Linked DNA regions of Homo sapiens: region 2 is linked to region 1. Evidence: fine-mapped expression QTL. Tissue or cell type: cerebellar hemisphere. Region 1 holds a variant in brackets; the other region holds the start of a gene. All regions are shown on one strand. Distances are between the middles of the regions.

Region 1 (7,858 bases):
TCTCAGTTCAGATTGGCCACATCTCAAGGGCTCAATAACCATATATGTCTAGTAGTTACTGTATCAGACAGCATGAGTTTAGGATCACCAATAACTGTCTGACACCCAGTGGTAAATGCAAGGTGTGGTCTGGTTTTATCTAAAGACAGAAAGTGTTTTAGGAGGCCTTTGTGCCTGAGGGCTTATCAAGCTGGAAGGCCAAGGGAGCCTTCCTTTTTAAGCCCTTCTCTGCCCCTTCATCATTGCTAGAAATACAAAAACACCAGAGCCCTCTGGCGAGTCTGAGAACGCACTCAGTGGTACTCCGTGATCTCCGTTCTGCAGAGGGAACCCAGGGTCTGGCAGCCTAACAGATTCAGTGGGATGGGCACTATGCCAGGGTGACTGAGCAGCGGGATCCAGGACAAGGGCTTGCTCGTGGTATAGACAAGTTAACCCTATTCTCTCCATAGCAAGAGATGACGTTCTGTACTGCAGCCAGTCTGTTGTTAGCAGATGTGAGTGACTAGCCATAGGAGGAGACGGGCCTGACAGAGGGGATGGAGAAAGGCCAGTCCACCCCCTTGCCCCAGGCGGGTTTGGGGACATAAGAAGGACAATCCCAGACTACCCTGTCTTACCTGCACTCTTCCCTGTGTCTGTGGCACTCCTCCAGGTGTCTGCATGGCCCTCTCCATAGTGACCTATGTGTAAATGTCATCGCTTCTAAAAGAGCCACTCTGCCCAGCTCAGCTCCACCACTTTCTCTTCTTACCCTGCTTTTTTCTCTTTTTTCTACAAAAAAAAAAAATTGTATTTGGATTTTATTTAGAATTTTATTTATTTATTTTGAGACGGAGTCTTGCTCTGTCACCCAGACTGGAGGGCAGTGGCGTGATCTCAGCTCACTGAAAGCTCCGCCTCCCGGGTTCACGCCATTCTCCTGCCTCAGCCTCCCGAGTAGCTGGGACTACAGGCGCCCGCCACCTCGCCCGGCTAAGTTTTTGTATTTTTAGTAGAGATGGGGTTTCACCGTGTTAGCCAGGATGGTCTCAATCTCCTGACCTCGTGATCTGCCTGCCTCGGCCTCCCAAAGTGCTGGGATTACAGGCATGATATTTAGAATTATATTGAGTTTATGGACAAATTGGGGAAGAAATTAAATCCTTTTTTTTTTTTTTGAGACAGAGTCTCGCTCTGTCTCCCAGGCTGGGGTGCAGTGACGTGATCTCGGCTCACTTCAACTTGATCCACCTCCCGGTTTCAAGCGTTTCTCATGCCTCAATCTCCCGAGTAGCTGGGACTACAGGCATGAGCCACCACACCCAGCTAATTTTTTTTTGTATTTTTAGTAGAGACGGGGTTTCACCATGTTGGCCAGGCTGGTCTTGAACTGCTGGCTTCAGGTGATCCACCCACCTCGGCCTCCCAAAGTGCTGGAATTATAGGCGTGAGCCACTGCGCCCGGCCATCTTTATATTGAACCTTCCTACTCATGAACTTGGTAGATCTTGCCCTTTTTTTTTTTTTTTGGTTAGATTCAGGGGGCACATGTGCGGGTTTGTTAGAAGGGCACAGTGCATGGTGCTCAGGTCTGGGCTTCTCTTGATCCTGTCACTCAGAGAGTGACCACAGTACCCAACAGGAAGTTCTTCAGCCCTAGCTCCTCTTTCCTTCCTCGCTTTTGGAGTCTCCAGTGTCTGTTGTTCCCATCTTCGTGTCCATTTGTACTCATTGTTTAGCTCCCGCTTATAAGTGAAAACACGCAATATTTGGTTTCCTGTTTCTGTGTTAATTTGCTTAGGATAATGTCCTCCAACTGCATCCATGTTGCTGCAGAGGACATGATTTTGTTATTTTTTATGGCTCCATACTATTCCATGGTGTATTTTCTTCAGCACTTACCACCACCTGAGGTTATAAATTTAGTTGTTCATTATCTACCTGTTCCATTAGAATGTGAACTCCATGAAGGCAGGGACCTCATCTGGCTCTCCACTGTACACCCAGGGCCTAGCTCAGCGTCCAGTACATAGTAGGCGCTCAATAACTACTTTTTTCTGAATGAAAAAAAACTTCATTCATAGAAGAACCAATGCAGCGAAGGAGCCATATTTATCACTTTCATTTTTTCTCTCAGCATTTCTGAATTTAGATCCATTCACTTCAGAGAATAACAGACATTTTCCAAGTGTTTTGGACGAGAATACGCTCACTTCTTCTACTCCTAACGGTTCAGAATTGCTTAATCTTCCTGAATAGTTGGACGAAGTTTCTTCCCCCTCTGTCTCATTATTAGAGACCAATGGAGTTATTCCTTGTTGATTAATTATTTGGTTTTTTTTTGAGCCGGAGTTTCACCCTGTCACCCAGGCTGGAGTGCAGTGGCATGATCTCGGCTCACTGTAACCTCTGCCTTTCAGGTTCAAGTGATTCCCCCACTTCAGCATCTGAGTAGCTCGGATTACAGGCATGCGCCACTATGCCTGCCTAATTTTTGTATTTTTAGTAGAGACAGCGTTTCACTACATTGGTTAGGCTGGTCTCGAACTCCTGACCTCAAGTGATCCACCTGCCTCAGCCTCCCAAAGTGCTGGGATTACAGGCATGAGCCACTGTGCCCAGCTAAATTGTTTTTTTTTTTTAATTCTCTGTTAGGTAAAAAAGTTATGAGGGGAGGAGACTGAGCTGTCATGGGCAAGGCCGGGCCGCTCGCCTAGCCTCACAACACTCCCCACATTCTTCACTATCACAGCAAAGTGGTGTCTACAGTCCTGCAGAAAGGCCTCAGAGCTTTATATTGCTAGAACAATATATCCCACTCTTCTGGCAATCTGGGGGAAGGGCAGAGACTATGCCTTGTATTTACAAAGGAAGAAACCAAGAAACACAAAAAGGCAAGAGAGATTCTCCTTACTGCGGAGTCTGCCCCAAGATGGCAGTGAGACAGTACTTGCTTGGGTTACAGAACACAGGGGCCAACTCTCTCCCTACTCCACAGCTACATTCCAGAGAATGGCATTTTCGGAGCACAAGTGGTTTCCAGGGCCAGGCAACAAAGGACTTATCAGACTAACTGGAAGAGAGAAGCTGATGTCCCCAAACCCACTCCAAACTCCAAACTCCAAAGTCTCCATTCTATGCCCCAGGCACATTTACTCTTCCCTGGAGTGCAGTGTACAGACCTGAGCTCACTTGAGAGCCTGGGACAGCCCATCCATGTTGGCAGGCTGGCTCCCTAGAGCCAGCCATCTCATCCTTGTGAGTTGATAATTTAGCACAACTCCCCCAAAGGATGCATTAGTAAAGGACTCTTGAAGATGCTGAAGAATTTTCAAACCAAAGGAATGAATTGCTAAGAATAAAGTAAGTTGGAGGAGATGCTTTTCAGCTTGGGGCCTGCCCAGCATCACGCTGTGTGTCACTCAATAATCTATCAATTATAGATTATAGTTAATCCTGTTGAAATGACTACAGGAACCCAGCAAAACATGCCAGAGGATCCTCTTTGACCTCTATCCCAAGCAAACATATGGTGGTAATGGATGTCAAGACATGGGAGGGAGCTAGAAAGTTCCACTAAAGCTAAGTCTAAATGAAGCTCGGCTCTGGGTGGGGCAAATCTTGAGAAATGGCATCCTATTGCAGTTTGGTTTTCTTTCCGTGTTTATCATCTCTATCAGTATTCTCCTTTAGGCACAGCGTAAATTGAACAGACCTTGGGAGAGAGAACACAAGGACTGGACCACCTGCTCTGCTATATCATAACTGAATCTTGGGCATATTTTCTAAGAATTTTTTTCTTTTAGAGACAGTGTCTCGCTCTGTCACCCAGGTTGGAGTTCAGTGGTGCCATCATAGCTCACTGCAGCCTCGAATTTCTGGACTCAAGTGATCCTCCCACCTCAGCCTCCTGAGTAGTTGAGACTATAGGTACATGCCACCACACCTGGCTAATTTTTAATTTTGTTTTGTTTTTGTTTTTTGGGTTTTTTTTTTGAGACGGAGTTTCACTCTTGTTGCCCAGGCTGGAGTGCAATGGCACAATCTTGTCTCACTGCAACCTCCTCCTCCCGGCTTCAAGCAATTCTCCTGCCTCAGCCTCCCAAGTAGTTGGGATTACAGGCGTGTGCCACCATGCCCAGCTAATTTTTTTTTTGAGACGGAGTCTCTCTCTGTCGCCTAGGCTGGAGTGCAGTGGCGTGATCTCGGCTCACTGCAAGCTCCACCTCCCGGGTTCACGCCATTCTCCTGCCTCAGCCTCCTGAGTAGCTGGGACTACAGGCGCCTGCCACCGCGCCCGGCTAATTTTTTTGTATTTTTAGTAGAGACGGGGTTTCACTGTGTTAGCCAGGATGGTCTCGGTCTCCTGACCTCGTGATCCGCCTGCCTCGGCCTCCCAAAGTGCTGGGATTACAGGCGTGAGCCACCGCGCCCGGCCATGCCCAGCTAATTTTTTGCATTTTTAGTGGAGACAGCGTTTCACCATGTTGGCCAGGCTGGTCTCGAACTCCTGATCTCAGGTGATCCACCCGCCTCAGCCTCCCAAAGTGCTGGGATTACAGACGTGAACCACTGTGCTGGGTCCTAAGACTTAATGTACTAGTTTCCTGGGGATGCCATAACAAAGTATGTATCACAAGCTTGAGTGGCTAAAACAATAGAAATTTGTCATCTTACAGTTCTGGAAGCTGAAAGTACAACAGGAAGGTGTTGGCAGGGTTGGTTCCTTCTGACAGCTGTAAGGCAGGGTCTGTTCCACGCCTCTCCCCTGGCTTCTGGTGGTTTGCTGGTCCTCTTAGGTGTTCCTTGGCTTGCAGATGCATTATCCC[G/A]ACCTCAGCCTTCACGTGGCGTTCTCCCCATGTGCGTTTCTCTCTGCGTCCCACTTCCTCCTTTTAATAAGAGCGCAGTCATATGGGAGTAGGCTCATCCTAATGACCTCATCTTAACTTCACCATATCTGTAAAGGCCCTATCTCCAAATGAGGTCGCCTTCTGAGGTACTAGGGGTTAGGGGTACATTTGGGGGGTGAAGGAAACAATTCAACCCATAACACTTTCTTTCCCTCTAAATGGGGATTAGAATACAGTATTTCTTCATATAATTGCAGTGGTTGTGAAAGTGTCTCAAAGAGGCTTGGTTCCTAGAAGCTCAGCAGACATCTGGTTTGTCTGAAAGTACATGTGCCTTGGAGCTGTCTGAGTCAGACTGCACCCTTAGGGAGCAGGGCTCAGGTGGGGTAATCACCCTGTGAGCATCCAACACAGGTAAACAGGTGCTTGGCCAATGCGTTTCCCTGATGGTGAAGAGGAAAGGCTGGAGAGAAAAATCTGCTGATAAGCCAGGGCTAGAAAAAGTCTGATACCAAGTCCTGGAGAGGATGTGGAACCTCAGGAGCCCCTGTGTGCAGCTGTCTCAGTGTGCACTGGTAAAAACACTCTGGCAATATGCCAAAAAGGCAAAGCTGTATATGGGATGCCCCAGCAATTCCACTCCTAGGTGTAGGTGTATACTCTAGAGAAATGCCTACATAGGTGCCCCAGGAGATGTGTGCAAAAATATTCATAGCAGCATTGTTTGTTAGACCTAAAAATGAAAAATAACCTACATTTCCTCAATGTCATGCATGCATCTAATGGAATACTATGTTACACAGCAGGTGAAGTCAATTAACTAGAGCTGGGCATACCGTATGGATGAATCTCACTAACAAAAACTATTCAGCAAAAAAGAGCAGATTGCAGAAGAATAAATACAGTGAGTAGGACAAAACCAACGACATATTGCTTAGAATGCATATGTAAGTATTTGCATAAAGAATATAAAGAAGTCTGGGCCTGATAAACACCAATTTCAGCAGGCGGAAGTGGAAGTGCACAGGGAGCTTCAACAGCTTATTTTTTAAACTGGTGATGAGTGAAGAGTACTGGTTATCTTATTCTTTATAACTTCTGTATATTTGAAATGCAACATTTTTTAAAGAGCCAGGACTTGAGGAGAGTCATATAAAGGAGACTGAGATGCCAGGGACAATTTCTACTCGTGGGAAGATTCAGAGTTGTTCCTGTCATTCCCTGGAACCCAGAATCCAGAGTCAATTAGTTAAAGACTCTGACATCTGCTAGGCGGGAGGCAAGAGACCTAACAAGGTAAGGCTAGGGGGATGAGAGGAGGGAAGGACGCTCTCATGCTGCCCCTCTTTGATCTGAACCCAGTTACTGGCCTGCGCGCCAGCCCTGGGCTGCAGATAATGCCAGGAGAAAACAGCTGGGCAGTCCTGGGAAGCCTGGGAGGGATGCAGAGGAGGGCGGGGGCCACACACGCTGGGAGGTGCACTAAGGCTGCTGCCCCCACACAGTGACAAGCGCTTCCTCGCAAACCACCTGGCACGGGCACCCTGACAGTTTACAGCACTGTCTCTCACTCTCCTTCTCTCTCTCTCTCTCACACACACACACACACACACACACACACACATACGCCCCATCCACCGCCCGCTCTGACCAGGACCCCAGCGTTGGGGATGCGGCCAAGTCAGCCAGCTGTGGGCCCTGCCAACCCTCCCTCTCTTCTAGGACTGGGTTTTTCCAGCCGGAGTCTCACTCCCTCTACAGCAATCTCGGGAAATTGGAGACTGACGCGGCTGCTCCTGCATGTTATTTATTTTTCCTCTTTCCCTCCCGTGGAGACCCTCCTGTTGGAAAGAGAGCTGCAGCACGGGACAGAGACAGGCAGGAAGAAGCAGAGAGGACTCGGTGACGCCCCCACCGAGCAGCCCCTGGCCCACTCCTCCAGCAGGGGCCATGAGCACCAAGCAGGAGGCCAGGAGAGATGAGGGAGAAGCCAGGACGAGGGGGCAGGAGGCACAGCTTCGAGACCGAGCCCACCTGAGCCAGCAGCGCCGGCTCAAACAGGCCACCCAGTTCCTGCACAAGGACTCGGCCGACCTGCTCCCGCTGGACAGCCTCAAGAGGCTCGGCACCTCCAAGGACTTGGTGAGGCATCACCCCTCCCCTGCCAGCGTCCCCTGGCCTTTTCCTTCCACTTCCCAGATCCTGAGCAGGAGGCAGGACCAGAAAGTGCAGACCCTCAGCTTTCAGGTCCCGCTCCCTTGCTGAGATGGGGAGAGGTCATCCTGCCAACTCAAGGCTCTTCACCGGGGATGTTCCCATGGTTTGGTGGCTCTGAGGGTTCCTATTCTCTCATTGCTTGGCTTCCCTTTTTCCTCTAATGGCCCCAAACTTGAGGGTGGTGAGGAGCTAGGCTGTTTAGAAGTGGGGGCTTACAGGAACACAGGAACCCTCTAGAGTGGTCACTTACAACCAGGAGGGCCTGGAGGACTGGCCAGTTTAGGGTTGTGACTTCCTGCTTCCCCCGAACCACAGGTTCCCCAGACCAGGTCTGTCTATCCACTTGTCCTTTCTCCTCAGAATCAAAACATCGGGGGTCTCCATCCTTCCCAGGGCATCAGGGTTTTGTGTGGCTCTTGCCGGGGGCCCCTGGCCGCCTTGAGTGCTGCTCCCCCAACTCCTGAGTGGAATGGACCTTCCAGGCTCCTCTCCTCCCATCCCATGTCTGCAGCAGCTTTGGCCTCAGAGGAATGGGGCAGGGGAGTAACAGTGAGGATGTGAGTGGGCGGCGGAAAACTGCAGATTCAGGCATTCCCCTCTGAGAGGCAATGCTGACAAGCGGGGCTGCGCAGCCACTTCGCTTGGGATCAGATCCTGGCTCTGCCATTTACTAACTTGTGCAATTGACTTTACGTCTCTGTGCCTCAGTTTCTTCATCTGTTAAATGAGAATCAAATCAATCATAGGATTGTTGGGAGAGTTGTTAGAGCTAATATATTTAAAGCACTTAGAACAGTGCCTAATAGCAG
Region 2 (7,858 bases), 39 kb before region 1:
AGGCTGAGGTGGGAGGATCACTTGAGCCTGGGAATTTGAAGATATGGTGAGCTATGATCGTGCCACTGCACTCTAGCCTAGGTGACAGACAGACCCTATCTCAAAATAAATAAATAAAGTGGAAATTTTGTTTGTTTGTTTTGAGACAAAGTCTCACTCTGTTGCCCAGGCTGGAGTGCAGTAGCGTGATCTCGGCTCACTGCAACCTCCTCCTAGGTCCAAGCGATTCTCCTGCCTCACTCTCCCAAGTAGCTGGGATTACAGGCGCCCTCACCACGCCCAGCTAATTATAGTATTTTTTAGTAGAGATGGGGTTTCACCACGTTGGCCAGACTGGTCTTGAACTCCTGACCTCAGGTGATCTGCCCACCTCGGCCTCCCAAAGTGCTGGGATTACAGGCGTGAGCCACCACGCCCAGCCTGAACATTTTTATTTTAATTTTTAAAATTATTTTTAGAGATGGGGTCCTGTTCTGTTGCCCAGGCTGGAGTACAGTGACACGATCATAGCTCACTGCAGCCTCAAACTCTTGGGCTCGAGAGATCCTCTTGCCTCAGCCTCCCGAATAGCTGGGAATACAGACAAGCACCACCACACCTGGTTAGTTTCTTATTTTATTTTTTGTAGAGATGAGGTCTTGCTTGAACTCCTGGGCTCAAGTGATTCTCCTCCCTCAGCCTCCTGAAGTGCTAGGATTACATGTGAATCACCACACCCTGCCCACTTTCTTAGAACTTCAGAACACCCCTTTTCTCTTAACAAATGACTTTACTTCCTACTTGACAAAGAATACAGAAGACATCAAAGGAAATACTCTCATTTTCCAGAAAGCAAATATACAAACCTATGCGTATCAACATCTATCTTCTTTCTGCTCTAATTAGAGGTCAGTTCATTCTGCTGTCTAAGTCCTTCCCCTCTGGTTGTGCTTTGGAGCTGTTCTCACTCTATATACTTTTCTTAGGCAAACTCATCTGCCTGTATTTCAGTATCCACCTAGAAGTAGATGACTTCAATATTTATATATTTTAGAATTCCTTAAGTTTGGGACCCAAATATCCCATTACCTACCTGAACAGCAACTAGATATTTCAAACGCACCTCAAATTCAACATGTGTAAGGCTGAGCGCAGTGGCTCACGCCTGTAATCCCAGCACTTTCAGAGGCCGGGGTGGGCAGATCGCTTGAGCTCATGAGTTTGAGACCAGCCTGGGCAACACAGTGAAACCCAAATTCTACAAAAAATACAAAAAATCAGGTGGGCACGGCTGCGTGCACCTGTAGTCCCAGCTACTCAGGAGGCTGAGGTGGGCAGATCACTTGAGCCCAGGAGGTGGAGGCTGCAGTGAGCCGAGATCGTGCCACTGAACTCCAGCCTGAGTGACAGAGCCAGAACCTTGTTTCAAAAAAAGAAAAGAAAAAAAAATTCAACAAGTTTAAAACTGAACTTGGCCGCGCACAGTGGCTCATGCCTGTAATGCCAACACTGTGAAAGGTGAAGGTGGGAGGATCACTTGAACCGAATAGTTCAAGATCAATCTGGGCAACAGAGTGAGACCCTGTCTCTACAAAAGATACAAAAATTAGATGGGTGTAGTGGCATGTGCCTGTAGGGGGTCCCAGCCATTCAGGAGGCTGAGGTGGGAGGATCACCTGAGCCCAGGAGGTTGAGGTTGTAGTGAGCCAAGGTCATGCCACTGGACTTCAGCCTGGGGGACAGAGCAAGACCCTGTCTCTAAAAAATAAAAAGATAAATAAAAATAAATATATAATTAAAAAAAAAACTCATTCTGAGCATTGCTTTGTAGTAAAAAAACAAAAACTGAATTCACGATCATTCCCCTGACAACCCCCCGCCCGTCCCTTGGCCAAAGTGATTATCTTCCAGGGCCCTTGGTCAGGGAATAGTGTCATTATTCCTTCAGTTATGCAGCTGAAAATCTTGACACTTCTACCTCCCATCCAACCCACCATCAAGCCCTGTCAACTTTACCTCTTAAACATGTTTTCTTAATGCCCCTTTTTTACTCTCTCTGTCTCCTTCTTTCTCTTCCTCTCTCTCTCTCCCTGCCACCCTTTTTCAAGCTCCAGCAGTTCTTGCCTGGAGTATTGCAACATCCAACTGTTCTGCCCTAATCCACTCTAGCAATCCCCGCTATAGAGGGACCTTTTAAAATGCAAATCTGACCTGGATTCACTTCTGCTTAAAGCTTATGACTGGTTTCCTTTAATTCTTGGATAAGCACAAAACTTCTCGGTATGGCTAAGGCTCTGCTTCCTCCGGCTCCAGCTTCAACTCACACCACACTCCATTCAGGTCGATTAGCTCAAACCCCTCAGATATTTCTCAGCCTTTGTACTCACTGTGCTTCCTCCTGCCATCCAGCCTTTGCACGCCTGATTCCCTCTGCTTAGAGGAGTTCCCTCCTTTCTTTGTAAAAGGCATCAGATCTCACACCAAGCTCTCATTACAAAAGCCTTTCCTGTCCTACCTCTCAAGATCTCGTTATTGTAAATACTCAAAGTATCATTAACCTCTAATGTTTCAATTTACAGCAATAATTCAACATTTGTTTGTTTTGGAGACGGTGTCTCCCTCTGTCGCCCAGGCTGGAGTGCAGTGGTGTGATCATGGCTTACCATAGCCTCCACCTCTCGGCCTCAGGTGATCCTTCCACCTCAGCCTCCAGAGTAGCTGGGACTACAGGCACGCACCACCACGCCCGGCTAATTTTTAGTAGAGAAGCGGTTTCGCTATGTTGCCAGGCTGGTCTCGAACTCGTGACCTCAAGTGATCCACCCGCCTCGGCCTCCTAAAGTGCTGGGATTACAGGCGTGAGCCACTATGCCCAGCCCACATTTGTTTATTTGATTAAAATGTCTGTGCCCCTCTTCCAGGATTGGGCTGTGAGCCCAGGGGAAGGAAAGAACCTTGTCTGCCATTGTATCTTCAGGGCCTAGCGGTGCCTGGCGCACAGCAGTTGCTCAACTAGACTGGTTGACTAAGTCAATAAATAAAGCACTACGGTCTATTATATCCGAAGGCTTGGCTTCGGGAGGGGCAAAAGACAGGTTTCGCGCTGAGGTAGGGTTCATGGTGCCGACATTTTTTTTCAAGATGGAAGAAAGCGGAGATAATACGCAGCCCTCAAAGGAACTTAGTCTAATCGGGGGGAGCAGACGATCGTTCACTGTGGGAAAATGGGGTACGATTTCCCCCAGTGAGGAAATCAACTAAAGCCGAGCTTTGAAAAGGGGAGCAGAGGAGCCTGAGGGGAAGCGGGGGCGTGTCGCCTGGCGTGACCAGCGCGGCAGGAAAAGCGGGCCCAGGGACCCGGGCCTGTCACGCCGCTTCCGCGCGTCCCCAAACTCTCCCTCGGCTCGCCCACCCACGCGGCGGGGACCCCTCCGGCCCCTCCCCGGCCCCACGGCCACTTCTTCCCCCACAAGCCGGCCTGCGGTCCGCCTTACCAGCCCGGGCCGGACGGGGCCGCAGCTCCTGGCAGACCGCACAGCCTTCGAGCCCGGAATGCCGAGACAAGGCCGGCGCCGATTGGCGACGTTCCGTCACGTGACCTTAACGCTCCGCCGGCGCCAATTTCAAACAGCGGAACAAACTGAAAGCTCCGGTGCCAGACCCCACCCCCGGCCCCGGCCCGGGACCCCCTCCCCTCCCGGGATCCCCCGGGGTTCCCACCCCGCCCGCACCGCCGGGGACCCGGCCGGTCCGGCGCGAGCCCCCGTCCGGGGCCCTGGCTCGGCCCCCAGGTTGGAGGAGCCCGGAGCCCGCCTTCGGAGCTACGGCCTAACGGCGGCGGCGACTGCAGTCTGGAGGTGAGCGGGATGCAGCAATGGAGTCCCAGGCCTGGCCTGGGCACAGGCGGGGAGCAAGGCCTCCGGGCGCGGAGGTCAGGGCGTCTAGCAGCAGGGCACGGGCCACGAGTGGAGATTTGGGTCACACGGGAAGAATCTGAGCCAGGGTGCAAGTTTTTTCTGCGTCCACCTCCTGGCCGTGGCCTTCTCACTGCTTAAAGCGCCCCTTGGCCTTCCCTGGAAGTCTGACCTCCGCACCCTGCCCGCGGCCTCGGGAGGGCTGGGGTGGCCTACCTTCTTAGGCCGACTGTGGCTGAGATGAAGACTGAGATTGTACTACATTGAGTCAAAGACCAACCTGCATACACACTCCCCTGCTCCCAGGCTGTCTCACCACTAGGCAACACCGCCTCCATCTTACTTACCCTTTTGCAGGGCCCTTTTCCTGGTTCTTGAGAATGTAGCAAGATTTCCCCGCTCAGGATGGGGATGGGTCGGAGGAGCCACTCTGGAAGTTTCCCGGGCAAGAAAGTGTTGGCAATAATAATAACGGGCTGGTCAGGAAGTAGAAGAGAAAATTAAGACTTAGATATCCTGTGGAAAAAGAGGAATAATATCTACTGATTGATGCGGGGAGAGAGGGAAGCCTGGAAAGATCGGAGGTGAAAGTAAAACTGAGATTTGAAGGTAGAGGTGTGGAGGGCCTGTGAACTCTATGCAGATGACAAATGTCAAAAAAGTGCAGTTGCTTTTCAGGGAGAGAATAAGTGTCCTAAAAAAGAGACAGCCAATTCCTCTGTCTTCCAAAGTTCCGTGAAATAGAATTACACAATTTTGCTTAATGGTAGAATATTCCATGTATCTATTAAAATCAACAAAAGGCCGGGCGCAGTGGCTCACGCCTGTAATCCCAGCACTTTGGGAGGCCGAGGCGGGTGGATCACCTGAGGAGTTCAAGACCAGCCTGGCAAACATGGTGAAACCCTGTTTCTACTAAAAAAAAAAAAAAAAAATTAGCTGGGCATGGTGGTGCATGCCTGTAATTGCAGCTACTCGGGAGGCTGAGGCAGGAGAATCGCTTGAACCCGGGAGGCCGAGGTTGCAGTGAGCTGAGATTGCGCCATTGCACTCCAGCCTGGGTGACAAGAGCGAAGCTCCGTCTCAAAAAAAAAAAAAAAATTAAAAAAAATCAACAAAAGACTTAAAAAAAAAAGACTACACTGTTAGCATTTCAGAACCACCTTAGTGTAATGATGATAGCTCATTGTGGTACTAAGAAGACAGGGGTTATAGTCTTATTTCTGGAAAAGAAATTAATAAAGTGGCATGCTTAGTTAAAATATATATAACCACATGCAAGTACTAAAATGCCACTGTATAAATACAATACAAATTGTAAAAGAAAACATGCTTTTTAAATTAGAGCAAGTATAATAGCCTGTGAAATAAATGTCACCCTCTAGAGTTGTTCAGTGCACAAGCTGCACAACTTTACATGGGCCTTCAGTAGAGGTTTCCATTTTATGTGAGGTTTTGTAAACTGGGAGATGATTTTTCCAGTAGTGTGGCAATAGTACAATCTGCCTTTCTTCCCTGATTCTGTGTGCACTGGTCCTATTTACAAAGTAATATAAAAATCAAAAGGCTTGGCCAGACGCGGTGGCTCACGCCTGTAATCCCAGCACTTTGGGAGGCCGAGGCGGGCAGATGACCTGAGGTCAGGAGTTTGAGACCAGCCTGAGCAACATGGTGAAACCCTGTCTCTACTAAAAATACAAAAACTAGCCGGGCGTGGTGGTGGGCACCTGTAATCCCAGCTACTCAGGAGGCTGAGACGTGGGACTCGCTTAAACCCAGGAGGCAGAGGTTGCAGTGAACTGAGATCGTGCCACTGCACTCCAGCCTGGGTGACAAAGTGAGACTCTGTCTCAAAAAAAAAAAAAAAAAAAAAATTAAAATCCTTTGTCTTGAATGGATTATGGGATCAGAGTTTCATCAGGACTCCTAATTACCATATGCTTTCCTATTCTAGCATCTTCCATTTCTGTCCATACAGTCATTGCAAGTGATCTATTTATATTATAGTAGGCAATTATAGAGATTTCCACATATTTGTAGCTATCCCATCCATTTCTGTAGCCAAATATTCTGAAGCTTCAAGGAGATCTTTGTCTTATCTCCAACCCAGTCCCATTTTTGCCCTTTGAATTGCTTCTGTCTGCTGTAATTTTAGCCTTCTTTTGTCAGTAAAGCTTATCTCCTTATTATCTGAGGTCTTTACAAAAGTCCATGGAATGTTTACCTGGGCCTTTAGGCTCATGTTCCTGGTCATATAAAGAGGAGCACCTTTCTCTAAAAGGACCTCTTCTCAGCCTAAACAATCTCTAACATCTTGCCACTATTTGCATTTTCCAGGGTCCACACTTGTGATTCTCAATGGAGAGTGAAAACGCAGATTCATAATGAAAACTAGCCCCCGTCGGCCACTGATTCTCAAAAGACGGAGGCTGCCCCTTCCTGTTCAAAATGCCCCAAGTGAAACATCAGAGGAGGAACCTAAGAGATCCCCTGCCCAACAGGAGTCTAATCAAGCAGAGGCCTCCAAGGAAGTGGCAGAGTCCAACTCTTGCAAGTTTCCAGCTGGGATCAAGATTATTAACCACCCCACCATGCCCAACACGCAAGTAGTGGCCATCCCCAACAATGCTAATATTCACAGCATCATCACAGCACTGACTGCCAAGGGAAAAGAGAGTGGCAGTAGTGGGCCCAACAAATTCATCCTCATCAGCTGTGGGGGAGCCCCAACTCAGCCTCCAGGACTCCGGCCTCAAACCCAAACCAGCTATGATGCCAAAAGGACAGAAGTGACCCTGGAGACCTTGGGACCAAAACCTGCAGCTAGGGATGTGAATCTTCCTAGACCACCTGGAGCCCTTTGCGAGCAGAAACGGGAGACCTGTGGTATGTGGTCTTCCAGGGAAAGGGGTGAGGGAGCCCAGCCTTTCCTCTGTAGTGGCAAGGTGTGTAGTCAGTCTTGATGCTTACAACAGTCAGGCTTCTGGCCGAGCACAGTGGCTCATCCCTGTAATCCCAGCACTTTGGGAGGCTGAGGCGGGCGGATCACTTGAGGTCAGCAGTTTGGACTAGCCTGGCCAACATGGTGAAACCCGTCTCTACTAAAAATATAAAAAAACTAGCCGAGCGTGGTGGCACACGTCTGTAGTCCCAGCTACTCTGGAGGCTGAGGCAGGAGAATCGCTGAACCTGGGAGGTGGAGGTTGCAGTGAGCTGAGATTATGCCACTGCACTCCAGCCTGGCCACAGAGGGAGACTCTGTCTCAAAAAAAAAAATAAAAATGAAAAAAGAAGGGGTCTCAAAAATAAATAAATGAAGAAGGGGTCTCACTATGTTGCCCAGGCTGGTCTCGGACTCCTGAGCTCAAGGGATCCAACCATATGGGCCTCCCAAGGTGCTGGGATTATAGGCATGAACGACAGCGCCTGACTTCATTTTCCTTCTTTTTTTTTTTTTTTTTTTTGAGATGGAGTCTTGCTCTGTTGCCCAAGCTGTAGTGCAGTGGTGCAATCTCAGCTCACTGCAATCTCCACCTTCTGGGTTCAAGTGATTCTCCTGCCTCAGCCTTCTGAGTAGCTGGGATTACAGGCACCCGCCACCACACCTGGCTAATTTTGGTATTTTTTAGTAGAGACAGGGGTTTGCCATGTTAGCCAGGTTGGTCTTGAACTCCTGACCTCAGGTGATTCGCCCACCTCGGCCTCCCAAAGTGCTGGGATTACAGGTGTGAGCCACTGCGCCTGGCCTCATTTTCCTTCTTGATAAAGGAGAAAACTGAAGCAAGAGGAGGAAAATGACTTTTTCTTTAGAGATGCGGTCTCGCACTGTCACCCAGGCTAGAGTGCAGTGGCGCAATCACGGCTCACTCTAGCCTCGAATGCCTGGACTCAAGCCATTCTCCCACATCAGCCTCCCAAGTAGCTGGGACTATAGGCATGCACCATCATTCCCAGTTAATTTTTTT

What was found. PIP is the estimated chance that this variant, and not a neighbour inherited with it, causes the effect.
Region 2: FOXM1 starts here. The variant in region 1 is fine-mapped to the expression of FOXM1 in cerebellar hemisphere (GTEx, PIP above 0.99).

The regions. Positions count from the first base shown.
Region 1 is chr12:2,833,758-2,841,615 of GRCh38, reverse strand. NRIP2 (nuclear receptor interacting protein 2) reads left to right here and starts at 6,581. Exons shown (of 6, transcript NM_031474.3): 1 at 6,581-6,974. The coding sequence starts at 6,633. It also overlaps a transcript of ITFG2 not described here. RefSeq lists enhancers at 5,811-6,354, 6,355-6,899, 6,900-7,444. The variant G/A (reference allele first, on the strand shown) is at 4,812.
Region 2 is chr12:2,872,898-2,880,755 of GRCh38, reverse strand. It overlaps FOXM1 (forkhead box M1), which reads left to right and starts at 3,582. Exons shown (of 9, transcript NM_021953.4): 1 at 3,582-3,836; 2 at 6,231-6,779. The coding sequence starts at 6,278. It overlaps RHNO1 (RAD9-HUS1-RAD1 interacting nuclear orphan 1), which reads right to left and starts at 3,533. Exons shown (of 3, transcript NM_001252499.3): 1 at 3,474-3,533. RefSeq lists an enhancer at 740-1,693 and silencers at 3,277-3,716, 3,757-3,826.